Homo sapiens: one gene and its partners. Changing the gene in region 1 together with any one later gene gives a genetic interaction. Each region holds a gene or a part of one and is shown in the gene's direction. Other genes may lie near its edges.

Region 1 (3,500 bases):
GAGAGGCCCCACAGTAGGCTGCTCCTTCCGGGGGCCGTTGCCTGTTCCCACCCCCCACGGCCCTTCTCTGCCGCGCTCGTTCACGCCTCACGCCCGTGCTGCGCTGTCCCCTGCTGTGTGGTGCCTTGTCACGCACCCTGTGCCTCTGGCGCGGGCAGCCCATCTTCAGCCCGGTCTCAGCTCTTCCCATGTCCATCTTTGTTCTGTGAGGTCTTGGGCAGCTGTCTGCCGGGCACTTCCATCTGGGGAGGGGCTGGTGCCGCCTGGGCCCCGCCTCGGGAGGACGGTGTGCTTTGCGGTGTCACGCTCCACCTAGCCGGGGAGGCCTGGAGAGCCCGGCGCACTCCTGCGCCTAGAGGAGGAGACCCGCCCCGTTAGCCGGGGGCCGCGCCCACCCCAGACCCACTAAACTTCGTTTATACTGCCACTCTTGTGTTTGGGAAATGCTAAATTTTTTTTGCCTTTAAAATTTTCTGTTTTGATCCCATGGTGCATCTCGCTCTTGCTGCTGGCAGCAGAGTCTGACCTGCTGGAACCCGTTGTGGCCTGTATCTTTGTGCATTGTTTCTCTACCTGTATAGAACATGCATAGATGTCTACGATATGACCTCTTCTAGGACTCCTTGGGCTTACCCAACGGTGTTGCGTAAGCCTAGCGAGGCACCAGCTATGATAGATACTGTATCTGTTAACGCTTTAGAACGATATATGGCTGCTGTCAGCACTAGCTGCAAAGCAAATTGCAAGCCAAGGGGGAGAATCCTGGGTTTCAGAGAAGCATACACACATCCACGGTGCACACCCCTGACTAAGATGGCGCATTCCACGCGGGCCCCCGGCCTGCAGGGTTCACTGGCAATCTCCCCACAGGCGAGAGCCAGAATATTCAAGCACGGGCCTCTGACCCTCCCCTGGGGGGCGCTTTGTCTGCCAGTAGCGATGGAGGCCCTCACCGTTCCCCTGTCTCCGCTGCTGTTTTATAAGATGTGCTCCTTGTTCCAAATCTTTGTGACACGGAGCCCCAGCCCGGGGTGTCTGGGGCGGAGGCTTGACTCAGGCCTCAGTCAGCAGAGCCGTCACCGGGAGTGCGGACGTCACCGTCTGTCCACTCCGTGTGCAGTCGAGTGGTGGCTCCTGGGGAGGGAGGCAGCTGCCCCAGGGGCCCGCAGCGCCCCACACACAGCTTAGCTGAAACCCAAGGTCGATCCCTCGGCCCGTCCCTAATACTGTTCATCATCCTGTTTTGTGTCACAACACCCTGCTACCTTGATTCACTCTTCGTCGTTGGCTAGGTTTTGGATTTATTACTTTCGAGGACGAACAATCAGTGGACCAGGCTGTCAACATGCATTTTCACGACATCATGGGCAAAAAAGTGTGTAGTTGTAGTTTTATTTTACCTTAAGACCAAACCAAGTCTTAGGCAACTTAGGGGTTTCACTGGAAAGGAACATTCCTTCACGGAAAGGGTCGGGCGAGTTCGTCCTGTGAACCTTTGCTGCGTGAGGTGGGCCTGGGTCTGTAGACGTGAGGAGGGTCCCATCCTTCCCCAGCACCCTTCCTGCGGGGTGGGGATCTCTCAGCTTTGCTCCTGGAGCCCCTCCCTCTGGGTGACCTGGGACTGGGCGGGTAGGGGGCTGGGGCTGGGAGGCTGTGGCGGTGTTGGGGCTGGCTCCAGTGAAACCGCAGCGTTGCCTCAGGCTTGGTTTCCACGACCACTCCTTCAGATGTCTGCAAATCCCCATTGTCTGACACTGACCTGTAATGTGATCAGCAAGGGACCTTTGAGAGCCGAGGTTCCGCTTAAAATGGAAAGCACAGTGGAAACATCATGAAGGACTGGTTGTTTGAATTGGGTCACTTACTGTGGAACTCCGGCACCAGCCACATGCTCTCGGTAGTACTCAGCCACCATGCAGTCAAGTGACCTCTGGTTGTGTCATCTTCATACTGTGTTACCCCCGGAGGTGAGAGGGACAGGAGGCCACCCCCCCAACCCCCAGGCCAGCCCTTGGAAGGCATGTGTCAGAAAGGGGTCCCTAAATCCTTGTTTTACCTGGACCCTTGGAGGTTCTTGAGAAGTGGACTCTGAAATAAATAACTGGTAGAAATTCTACAGTGTGGAATTTCTTGCAGTTAGCAAAAGCTTAGGGGTCCAGGTTTTTGCAGGATTCCTGTCTTGGTCCTTTCAAACCAAGGAGCTCTGCTGGCTCTGCCAGGCCGCCTCACATGCCCAGTGGGATTCTGACCCGGCCTCCTTGGTGCGGCAGCTTCTCCCGTTAACGGAAGAAGACGCTTAGCCCCTCTGACAGGGCCATGGTTGTTTTTTCAATTAAAATGTCCTGGAGGGAGCATCGTGCTCATTATCTCCTGCCCCTGCCCTCTACCCCAGCCAGAGGTCTTGATAGCAGAACTTTTTTAAAAACAGTAGCATGTGTAGTTATTTTTGTATACACGTGGCTTAGATTGGGTTGCAGACTTCATTAATTCCATTTGAACCCAACTAAAACAGGAGACACAATCCTTGTTCTGACATCGAGTGCAGCTTGTGGTTTAAAATGAGCCTGCCGGCTGCATGGGTGCGCGACAGTACAAGCAGGGCTTCAAGGAGTCTGCGCCCAGTGTTTTAAGGGACTACGACACTGACAATTTGGGGAAAGCGTGGTCTTGATATACGGGGCAGAAAGAGCTCTGTACAGTGCACACACCTGCTGCCGTCCCTGGGCAGCCCCTGGGTCCCCCCAGCCATGACTGTTCTGCGCGAGCTCCTGAGCTGGGCGACCTCAGTGTGGGTCTCGCCTTCCAAGCCAGACAGTCGTTGGAGTCCAGCTTGCCCGGCGCCGGCCTTCACTGGTTGGCTGGAGCGGCACTTGGCGTCGCCGCCGGCCCCTCATGGGGGTTTTCCGTTTGTGGAGTGTTTGGTACCGCGTGGTAGTTAACCCTCCATGCCAGGCGACTGCATTGCTGCATTCAGGTAGGAAAGGGTGAAAGAATTTTTTTTTGTTTTTGTTTTTTTAAAGTACAAGGACCGCTCTGCTTTGTAAGCAGGAACCGCAGTCCCCTGAGGAGGGTGTGTGAAGACTCGCTCATTTGAGTTCTTTGAAATGGGTCCCTTGGTCCTGCTGTCACATTGCCTTGAGCTAACGGATCCTGTTCCCATCATAGGCCGGTCCTTGGGGCATTGGGCAGGTGGGGGCTTTGTGCCTCTGTGGCTGCTGCTGTCTGTTCTCTAACAGGCAGAACTGAGGGATTCTGAACTCAGGATGTGCAGCTCTCCAGACTGAGACCCCAAGGCTGACTCCAGGTGGATCCATTGTCTCTTTATTCTCATTACGATTTATCAGAAAAGTGAGACAAATTCAGGATTCTCAAATGCTGAGGCAGCCCCGGAATTGGGGGGATCTTTCTGTTGTTAGTCCACCCATATTTTCAAGCAGGCATTAAAGGAAGGTCAGCCACTGCGCCTAGAATAAGTAGGTCAGGCCTGCTCCATCCATTGT
Region 2 (3,500 bases), on another chromosome or scaffold:
TGGCTCACCGAGGCATCTGTGATCTGGCCTCCTTTTCAGCCCCCTGCCTGGGATGCGCCAGCCACTGAGCCTTCAGGGACCCAGCAGCCAGCCCCGTCTACAGAGAGCAGTGGCCTGGCACGTGAGTTCAGCCCAGATTCCAACCAGGTGCCCTGGTCCTAGGAGAGGACTCAGGGTTTGGAAGGGGACATCTGGCCATGACAATAGGAGCAGGGGTCCTCCTGTATCTTTGGGTGGGCCGGGATTCATTTTAATCCTTGGAGGAAGTGGTAGATATTCCTTTTATCTTTTGGTGGCAAGCTGAGGAAAGCCACCGATTCTTGTCCCATCACTTCTTTCAAGGGGAGGTTGCAGGAAGCTAGGAGCTCATCTCTAACTCCTACCATTGCATCCACAGAGCCGGAGCATGGCCCCAACACAGACCTGCTTGGCACCTCACCCAAAGCCTCACTGGGTCAGTATGCCAGCGGGCAGGCGTGGGGTGTCTGGGAGAGGGTGGACCTCAAATGTTCTTTTCAGAGGTCCTACTGCCTGGCCGTGTGGACAGAGGCCACAGGAGACTGAGCATCTATCTGATTCTCTGGAGTGGGGACTGTGATTGAAATAGTGGATGCAACACTGATTTTAGAGCCAAGCCCTTTGAATTGATGAATCTGGGTGGGCTGGTGTATAAGGCCTGGGGTCTGCCTCTGAGTGTGGGGCTGGGTCTAGCCAAAGTGTTGGGGAGGCCAGCATGAGACTGGACACCTATCCCTGGGCTCTGAGGCAGGGCTGGCTTGTCTGGTGCATTTCCGGGGGTGGAGGGACAGCTCTGAGCTGCCGAAGGCTGGAGGTGACATTGTTCTTTCTCAGCCAGTACCCCAGCCTGTCCTTTAACTCTTTCCTACATTTTCCTTAGTGTCTTTCAGACTTGGTTCAGGGCGAACAGTCCATTTGCTGACCTCGGTTTGTTCTGTTGACTCTTGGGGGTTGGGGCTGGAACCCAGCAGAGTGACTGTCAGACTGATCCATGAGAAGGCTGGCATAGCTTGGTCTGAAGCAGGGCTTCATAGAGACCGCTGGGCTTGGGAGCTCTGTGGAGGCTCTGGGGTGGGCCTCTTGTTAGCCACAAGTCTGTTTCTCCTCCAGAGTCCGTGTATCTGTCAGCTAAAGGGGCCCTTCCTGCCAGAGGTAACTGACAGCTGCTTGGGGAGCCCAGCCCCTGTTCTCAGCTTCCTGCTTTAGAAGCGGAGCCTGGTGCTCACCATATGCTCCCTGCCTCGCAGTCTTTGTTTTGGTTCAGGGAATTTGGACGTCTCTGGTGCTTCGGACGTCTCTGGTGCTTCAGGTCTAGGTTCCTGTCTCACTCTGCTGGGTGCCAGTAAATACCCCAGCCACGTCTGTCTTTGGCTTTGACACCGCTGGTTGGAGCTGGTGGTGGCAGCTTTGCCTTCCCTTGCCTGAAGCTGTTCTTAGGAGCTCTTGCCATGAAGCTGCATGGTGTATACTGAGCTACTGCCTCTGAGCTGCCTTTGTCTTAGCTCATGCCTACCCGTTTCTCACGCAGAACTGAAAAGCTCCATCATTGGCAAGAAGAAGCCAGCAGCAGCTAAGAAAGGGGTAGGTGGGGAGAGGTGGTATGGTAGAGGGGTTAGGAGCTGGGTGCAGGCTACCTGGGTTCACTCCTTGACCTTACCACTTACCAGCTATATGACTTTGGCAAAGGTACTGTGTTTCTCCGAACCTCGCCTGTGAAAGGGATTTAAAGATTTAAAGGGATTTAAAGCCTGTCTTCAAGGGCTGCTGGGAGGAGTCGGTGAGATGGAGCACATCTAGTGCTTGGCGGAGTGCTTGGCACATACTTGGCCCTGTCAGCATTAACTGCCGTCCTCAGGCCCGGGCTCTGCTGGGGCTGTGTGAGCCGCCCATGCCCAGCTCCAGCGGAGCACTATTGTCTTGGCCATGCTGGTTGGGCTCCTGTTTTTTACCCTAAATTTTAAGAAGGGCCTTTTCCTTGTGGGTGTGGCTACAGTGCCTGAACCTGGGAGGGATCTGAGGAGAGTGTGATTGGGAAGGCCCCTTACATGATTCTGTTCCCAGCTGGGTGCCAAGAAAGGCCTAGGGGCCCAGAAGGTGAGCAGCCAGAGCTTCAGTGAGATTGAGCGGCAGGCTCAGGTGGCAGAGAAGCTCCGTGAGCAGCAGGCAGCCGATGCCAAGAAGCAGGCGGAGGAGTCCATGTAAGTGTTTGCTGCCGGGGCCTCAGGCTTCTGCGGGGCTTGGTGGGTGGGTATGTTGGACAGGTCAGGATGGGTGGTGGCCACTGACACCTTTGTTCCCCCTAAGGGTCGCCTCCATGCGTCTGGCCTACCAGGAGCTCCAGATTGATCGTAAGAAAGAGGAAAAGAAGCTACAGAATCTGGAAGGGAAGAAGCGAGAGCAGGCAGAAAGGTTGGGCATGGGCTTGGTATCCCGAAGGTGAGGCTCAGCTCCGGGTGTGGCAGGGAAATGCCGTTGTTTTCTGGGAACCATTGCGGGGCCTTCCTAGCAGTTTGGGATGCTAGGCTTATTGTTTCTCCAAGTCTGAATAGATCACTTGGCTTATTGTTCTAAAGTCCCTAATACAGTGCTTGGCGCATAGTAGGTATGTGCTCAGTAAGTTGAATGACTGAATAGGTATGTGAACAAAACACAGGATCAGGTGTTATTTCAGTATCTTCAAGAGACTAGGGTGGTTTTTCTTGATGGCACTTTGAGTCATGGGACAGTTTATTTTTCCAGACCTCCCTGAGAATTGCGGTGCATTTAGTATCATCCTTAATTCCTGTCTAGAGATGCCATTTGTGCTCCCTGTAATACCCTCACATATCCCCCACATTTCAAATGCCCTCAGTTTGGGTGGAATCCTTCCTGTTTCAGAACCACTCGGTTTGCTGTGGTTTTCTTTCTTTTTCTTTTGAGACAGATTCTTGCTCTGTTGCCTAGGCTGGAGTGTAATGGTGTGATCTCAGCTCACTGCAACCTCTGCCTCCTGGGCTCAGGTGATCCTTCCACTTCAGCCTCCCAAATAGCTGGGACCACAGCCGGGAGCCACCATGCCCAGCTAATTTTTTTACTTTTTGTAGAGACAGGGTTTTGCTATGTTGTCCAGCCTGGTCTCGAATTCCTGGGTTTAAGTACCTTGGCTTCACAAAGTACTGGGATTACAGATGTGAGCCACCATGTCTGGCTGCTATGGCTTTTTATTTTTATTTTTTGAGACAAAGTCTCACTCTGTCACCCAGGCTGGAGTGCAATGGCACGATCTTGGCTCACTGCAATCTCTACCTCCTGGGTTCAAGTGATTCTCCTGTCTCAGCCTCCCAAGCAGCTGGGATTACAGGTGTGTACCACCGTGTCTGGCTAATTTTTTGTATTTTTAGTAGAGATGGGGTTTCACCATGTTGGCCAGGCTGATGTCGAACTCTTGACCTCAAGTGATCCACCTGCCTCAGCCTCCCAAAGTGCTGGGATTACAGGCATGA
Region 3 (3,500 bases), on another chromosome or scaffold:
CCATTTCTAAATGACATCCTCAAAATGCCAGCCTCAGAAGGAGAGCGGGTCAGTGTTCCACGGAGCAGTGGGAGGCAGCAGGAGGCCGTCCTCTGTGGTAATGGAGAGTTCTGGGCCAGGGCCGCTGTGGTTGTTACACGAATCTACACATGTGACAAATGCCATAGAATTAGACCCAAAGAATGCCTGCGAAAGCTGCTGAAATCCAGTGGGGTCTGCAGCCTGGTTCACTCTGTAGTGAAATCCAGTGGGGTCTGCAGCCTGGTTCTATCTGTATTGAAATCCAGTGGGGTCTGCAGCCTGGTCCACTCTGTAGTGAAATCCAGTGTGGTCTGCAGCCTGGTTCTATCTGTATTGAAATCCAGTGGGGTCTGCAGCCTGGTCCACTCTGTAGTGAAATCCAGTGGGGTCTGCAGCCTGGTTCTAGCTGTATTGAAATCCAGTGGGGTCTGCAGCCTGGTCCACTCTGTAGTGAAATCCAGTGGGGTCTGCAGCCTGGTTCTATCTGTATTGAAATCCAGTGGGGTCTGCAGCCTGGTTCACTCTGTAGTGAAATCCAGTGGGGTCTGCAGCCTGGGTCACTGTATGGTACCAGTGTCAGCTTCCTGTGTTACACGAGATGGCACAGTTGGGTGAAGCTGGTGATGAAGGTATGTGACCCCTCTACTACTTTTACAACTTCTTGTGAGTCTATAAACATTTCACAATTAAAAAAAAGTCTACTCAGGAGCTGAATTTAATAAAATGAGCACTTTTGACTGCTTTGTGAAGCGTGGCATTTTTTTTTTTGTTTTTTTGCTGTGAGTTCATGGTAGTAAAGAACATGAGTGACATGACTGCGCAGTCTGGCCCGAGTTCATGCCATTGTGGTTGCCCCAGCAGCGCGAGGTCAGCAGCGTAGAAAGGCAGCAGTGTGAAAGCTATGAGCTTGCGGGTGCCCTGAGAGCCACACTCTGAGAACTGTCACTCCTTTGCCTTCCTCCTGACACTCCTAGGGCCTCTGCATGTCCTGTAGTAGCTCCTGTCCTCAAAGGTCCCCCATCCCCAACTACAGGATGTCCACCTCCCTGAGCCCTTCTCTGCTGCTCGTGGCCTTCTGGTCACTCACTCCCCCTGGGCGGTTGCTCGGTATCCTCATGATGGGAAGCTGTGACCTCTTTACCAGGTCTACTGCTACTGGATGGCAAGGATCCTGTCTTGCTTACTTTCATATCTCCAGGGCTAGTCCCAGTGAATGATCACTTAAGTGTTTGAATTGCATTGAATTACATGATGGTTGTGTTTTAATAATTAATGTTAATAATAACACCTGCCATATATTAAGACACTACCATGTCCCAGGAGTGGTACTAAGTGCTTTACATACAAGGGGTCTTCAAAAAAATCATGGAAGATACGTTATGAAAAAACTATGCATGGATTTCAACACTTTTTGCACCAAAATAAGCTCCTACTCACTGAGCAGGATCTAGTTTGAGGCACTAAGAAGGATAAGACATCAGTTTTAAAAGAGCCCCTATCAGAGCAACATGAATTCTGCTAAAATTAAATCAAGAACCAACATTGGCCGGGTGCAGTGGCTCACGCCTGTAATCCCAGCACTTTGGGGGGCTGAGGCAGGCGGATCACCTGAGGTCAGGAGTTCAAGATCAGCCTGGCTAATATGGCGAAACCCCATCTCTACTAAGAATACAAAAATTAGCTGGGCGTGGTGGCAGGCGCCTATAAGCCCAGCTACTTGGGAGGCTGAGGCAGGAGAATTGCCTGAACCCAGGAGGCGGAGGTTGCAGTGAGCCAAAATTGCGCCACTGCACTCCAGCCTGGGCAACGAGCAAAACTCCGCCTCAACAACAACAACAACAACAAAACAACCAACATCAAATTTATGGTGAAGCTTGGGTGGAAGAATGGTGAAATCATTGATGCTTTATGAAAAGTTTATGAAATTCTTTGGACAGTGCCCCAAAGAATTAGTAGTTTGCAAATGGATATCTTGTTTTAAGAAGGGACGAGATGATGCTGAAGATTAAGGCCATAGCAAGCAGACCATCCACATCCATTTTCAAGGAAAAAATTCACCTTGTTCATGCCCTAATTGGAGGGAACTGACAACAGCAGAAATGACAGCCAACACCGCAGACATCTGAACTGGTTCAGCTTATGCAATTACGCCTGAAGGGTGAGCAAGCGTTCCACTCAGTGGGTGCCAAAACCCTAGTACCCAGGTCCGTGGCCGACCAGAGCAGAGCTTCCCATGGAAACTTCAAACACACGGGATCAAGATCCTGAAGCATTTACTCAAAGAACCATAACAGGAGATGCAGTGTGGCCTTCCCAGTACCATCCTGAAGACAAAGCAGACACGGCAATGGCTACCAAGAGGTGGGGTGGCCCCACCAAAGCAGAAGCAGACTGGTCAAGAGCAGAGGCCACAGCAACAGGTTTTTGGGATACTCAAGGCATTTTGCTTGTTGACTTTCTGGAGAGTCAAAGGACAGCAGCGTCTGTGTATTATGAGATTGTTTTGAGGAAGATAGCAAGAGCTTTGGTAGAAAAACCCCTGGGGAAGCTTCACCAGAGAGTCCTCCTCCACCACGACAAAGCTCCTGCTCATTCCTCTAACAAGCCCAACTTCGTGAGGGTTTCTATGGGAAATCATGAGGCATCCACCTTGTGGACCTGATTCGGCTCCTTCTGACTGATTTTGGTTTCCTGATCTTAAGAAGTCTTTAAAAGGCACCCATTTTTATTCAGCTAATAATGTAGAGAAAGACTGCGTTGACATGGCTAAATTCTCAGGCCTCCCAGTTCTTCAGGGATGGACTAAATGGCATCGTAAGCAATGGCATCATTGCTTACAAACATGTCTTGACCTTGGTGGGGCTTATGTTGAGAAATAAAGCTTATATTTTCTGTTTTCATCTTTGGATTCCATTTTTGCATGAACTTTTTGTAGTTCCCTCATACGTATTCTCTTTCCATCCTTAAAAAGCAGCTCTGTGAGGCTGGTGGTGGTCTCAGCACTATACAGCGGTCATTGAGCCTGGAGGCCTTGGGGTGCTCTTCTGAGTGGCAGAGTTGGCTTCAGACCCAGTGGTCTTGGATACTGCCACTTACCAGACAGAACCCATTAACTGCCAAAGTCACCATACTGTGGAAGATGACACAAAAATTTGAAAACAAAATTAAATCATTTATTAACCTCACAGGAAAAATGCAGTTTTCTGTACACGTCCAGCATAATTCATTCTAATCCAGAACTAATTGAAATTGGACTCAATGAAATAGGGGTTGCCACCGTGAAAGTGCATGGCTTTATCTTCAGGCGCAGCTACAAGGCACTGGGCTCTGTGTCCGCAGTGTTTTGTCAGACAGCGTTGGGTGAGAGGATTGGGTAACGACGGCCGTGACTCTCGCCTGAGTACTGGAAGGCCCGTCCTGGATGACACATCGCTTCCTCTCGTTTCAGTTGTCGACAACAGTAGCAACTGGGCAGTGTG
Region 4 (3,500 bases), on another chromosome or scaffold:
CAAAGGCTCAGTTTATATTCTGCTTATCTCTCCGTCTTTCTCTGTGTGTTTGTCTATTTCTATCTGGGTCCCATTGGGGATAGTTGGGCACTGGTCTCTTATGTGTAGGGTGACATTTGCCTGGGGCATCAGTAACTGGCACAGAATCCCAGGGATACGGGAGGAGGTGTTACAGATATTTGGTTAGGGAAGGAGCTGGAATCAAGATTCTTAGAGCAAGAGTGAAGGGCATTAGAGATGGGGCCAGAAAGGAGAATCCTAGATAATCTTGGCTTTCTCCCTCATATGCCCATGGCAGCCCCTAGTCTGATATGGCCGGTTTTGCATTTCCTCTTCTCTTTCAGTGAGAAATGCAGCTCTGGGGGTGGGATGTAGGAAGAGGGAACTATATAATTTTTACTCATAGGGACATTTTCCTGTGATTTGTCTTTACTCCCTTTCATCATTGTGCTCCCTACTCCCTCTGCAGACAGAATATCTGCGCCATGCGCCTTCTTCCTCCGGTTGTTCTTCCTCATCTCCTGGCTGAACCTACTGTGGTTTTCCTTTATGTCTGATCCCTTCCCCTTTGCGCCTTAGGCTTCACCGTATGTTGTGGACCATGGGGAATCTGGCCCTTTGCGCTGCAACCGCTGCAAAGCATACATGTGTCCCTTCATGCAGTTCATTGAAGGAGGGAGGCGTTTCCAGTGCTGTTTTTGCAGCTGTATCAATGATGGTATGTTCATGGAAGCTGGGATTTGGGGGAAGGTCTTGATTGTATCTTCCTTGTTCTCTATTAAATAGTTAGAGAGATGAGGGTCCATCTTTCAGGAGCTGGGGAAGTAGGGCACATGGGAATGAGGGATAGTGGTGTGAGCTCAGCTAGGGCCAGAATACTAAGATTGAAACTGGATCTTCGAGTAACACACTGCCATGCTTCCCACAGTTCCCCCCCAGTATTTTCAGCACCTGGATCATACCGGCAAACGTGTGGATGCTTATGACCGCCCTGAGCTATCCCTGGGCTCTTATGAATTCTTGGCCACTGTAGATTACTGCAAGGTGAGGGAAGGTAGCATGGGAGGAGCAGTGAGTGGAGGATAATGAGACAGCTGAGAATGGCTGTTATCATTTCCCTCACCCCTTTTTTGTCCCTTTTTGATGCTGACTTCTCTATAGTCAACTGGCCTGCTTACCATTCCCCCTCTCCCCAACATTTTCTTCCTCTGCAGAACAATAAGTTCCCCAGCCCTCCTGCCTTTATCTTCATGATTGACGTCTCCTACAATGCCATCAGGACTGGTCTTGTTAGGCTCCTCTGTGAGGAGCTCAAGTCACTGTTAGACTTTCTACCTAGGTGAGAGTTACAGAACTGAGGTGTTTCCTGAGGTTAATGATAGGGTGTCTGGGTTGACTGAAGAAATGTAGCTTGGTGTCATGAAGTTGTGGGTGGTGGAAAAGGTGGCAAGTCTAGGTAACAATGTCACCTTCTACAGGGAGGGTGGGGCAGAAGAGTCAGCAATCCGCGTTGGCTTTGTCACCTACAATAAGGTGCTCCACTTCTATAATGTGAAGAGCTCATTGGCCCAGCCACAGATGATGGTTGTGTCTGATGTGGCTGACATGTTTGTGCCACTGCTGGATGGCTTCCTGGTCAACGTCAATGAGTCTCGGGCAGTTATCACCAGGTAAGAGCCAGATTGTGGAGGTAAAGGTTGGGGGTGGCATGGGTACCACCATAGAAGGTCATGGAGTTGAACAGAGGTATTGGACAGTAGATGGAAAGGGGTTGTGGCCCAGGAGTTGTCAGATTCTAGAGGCTTGATGACTCTTCAGGGAATCGAGAACTGAGGTATCTGGAATCTGTATAGCAATTTTGGTTGTTTTCCGTCACCTATCTCTTTAGCTTATTGGATCAGATTCCAGAAATGTTTGCAGACACAAGGGAAACAGAGACAGTATTTGTACCAGTTATCCAGGCTGGAATGGAGGCTCTGAAGGTAAGGCTGGAGTATCGGGCAACCTCCTCTAACTCCATTTTCCTCTGACCATCTTATCCCCTGGGATACAACCTCTCTTTCTTCAGTAGTGGGTGACTGTCCAGTGTGTTAGACTGTCTGACATAGCTGGTGCTTAATAAATGACAAGGGAAGAGATGGATGAATAAAGAATAAACAAGTAGTCCTCTCTTTTTTCCTAGGCTGCTGAGTGTGCAGGGAAGCTCTTTCTATTCCATACATCCCTGCCCATTGCAGAGGCCCCAGGGAAACTGAAGAACAGAGATGACAGGAAGCTGATCAATACAGACAAGGAGAAGGTGTGGGACTGGAAAATGGGGGAGGGGAAGGATTTTTCATTACAGAGGAAGTGGGGACTCTACTTTCTTGATGGTGGCTAGGACCAGACACTCCACCCTTTCAAATACCATATCTGTGACTGCCAACCTCCACTGCTGCCATACTTCTCTACTCCATCTGATGCCAAAGCTGTTGGTAGACTCTTGTATTTATTTATTTTTTAAAGAAGAACTTTTGGCCGGGCATGATGGCTCATGCCTGTAATCCGAGCGCTTTGGGAGGCCAAGGCGGGCAGATTTTTGAGGCCAGAAGTTTGAGACCAGCCTGACTAACATGGCAAAACCCCGTCTCTACTAAAAATACAAAAATTAGCCAGGTGTGGTGGCACACACCTGTAATCCCAGCTACTTGGGAGTCTGAGGCAGGAGAATCGCTTGAACCTGGGAGGCAGAGGTTGCAGTGAGCTGAGATCATGCCACTCTATGCCAGCCTGGGTGACAGAGTGAGACCCTGTCTCAAAAAAATAAAAATAATATAAAAGAAAATTTTTTACTATTGGAAAATCCTTGGAAGTAGATCTGAAGTCTTCCATGAATTTGAATATCCCATGCTAGATATACAGTTTTCAAATAGGGCGGAGCTGAGATATTTGAACATTTTCTTCTCCCCATTTTCTTTCCCCCTAGACTCTGTTCCAGCCTCAGACAGGTGCCTATCAGACCCTGGCCAAAGAGTGTGTGGCCCAAGGCTGCTGTGTAGATCTCTTTCTCTTCCCTAACCAGTATGTGGATGTGGCCACACTCTCTGTTGTGCCCCAGCTCACTGGTGGCTCTGTCTACAAATATGCTTCCTTTCAGGTATGGTGTGGGATTTGGGGCAGCAGGTGGCAGCAGGGCTGGGAATATCTGCTTATATATGCAGTGGCTGACTCATTAATAGAAATAGTGTTGGGGCCAGGCACGGTGCCTCACACCTGTAATCCTAGCACTTTGGGAGGCTGAGGCAGGCAGATCACCTGAGGTCAGGAGTTCAAGACCAGCCTGGCCAACATGGCAAAACCCCATCTCTACGAAAAATACAAAAATTAGTCGGGTGTGGTGGCGGGCGCCTGTAATCCCAGCTACTCAGGAAGCTAAGAATCCCTTGAACCCGGGAGGTGGAGGTTGTGGTGAGCCGAGATTGCGCCACTGCACTCCAGCCAGAGCGACAGAGTAAGACTCC

The links. Genes that interact genetically often act in the same process or in processes that back each other up.
Region 2: changes in DAZAP1 (region 1) and ARFGAP2 together harm fitness less than expected from each alone (positive genetic interaction), as found in Homo sapiens cells (one large-scale study listed by BioGRID).
Region 3: changes in DAZAP1 (region 1) and TRAPPC10 together harm fitness more than expected from each alone (negative genetic interaction), as found in Homo sapiens cells (one large-scale study listed by BioGRID).
Region 4: changes in DAZAP1 (region 1) and SEC24C together harm fitness less than expected from each alone (positive genetic interaction), as found in Homo sapiens cells (one large-scale study listed by BioGRID).

The regions. Positions count from the first base shown.
Region 1 is NC_000019.10:1,424,586-1,428,085, forward strand, and holds part of DAZAP1 (DAZ-associated protein 1), read left to right. Parts: intron 1-1,292; coding exon 1,293-1,375; coding exon of another isoform or gene 1,376-1,376; intron 1,377-3,500. UniProt on the Homo sapiens protein: RNA-binding protein, which may be required during spermatogenesis.
Region 2 is NC_000011.10:47,170,380-47,173,879, reverse strand, and holds part of ARFGAP2 (ADP-ribosylation factor GTPase-activating protein 2), read left to right. Parts: coding exon of another isoform or gene 1-39; coding exon 40-121; intron 122-397; coding exon 398-454; intron 455-1,128; coding exon of another isoform or gene 1,129-1,170; intron 1,171-1,546; coding exon 1,547-1,599; intron 1,600-2,079; coding exon 2,080-2,216; intron 2,217-2,322; coding exon 2,323-2,454; intron 2,455-3,500.
Region 3 is NC_000021.9:44,099,309-44,102,808, forward strand, and holds part of TRAPPC10 (trafficking protein particle complex subunit 10), read left to right. Parts: exon of another isoform or gene 1-758; intron 759-3,469; coding exon 3,470-3,500. UniProt on the Homo sapiens protein: Specific subunit of the TRAPP (transport protein particle) II complex, a highly conserved vesicle tethering complex that functions in late Golgi trafficking as a membrane tether.
Region 4 is NC_000010.11:73,764,872-73,768,371, forward strand, and holds part of SEC24C (protein transport protein Sec24C), read left to right. Parts: intron 1-579; coding exon 580-718; intron 719-928; coding exon 929-1,044; intron 1,045-1,214; coding exon 1,215-1,339; intron 1,340-1,478; coding exon 1,479-1,670; intron 1,671-1,888; coding exon 1,889-1,982; intron 1,983-2,182; coding exon 2,183-2,299; intron 2,300-2,965; coding exon 2,966-3,136; intron 3,137-3,500. UniProt on the Homo sapiens protein: Component of the coat protein complex II (COPII) which promotes the formation of transport vesicles from the endoplasmic reticulum (ER).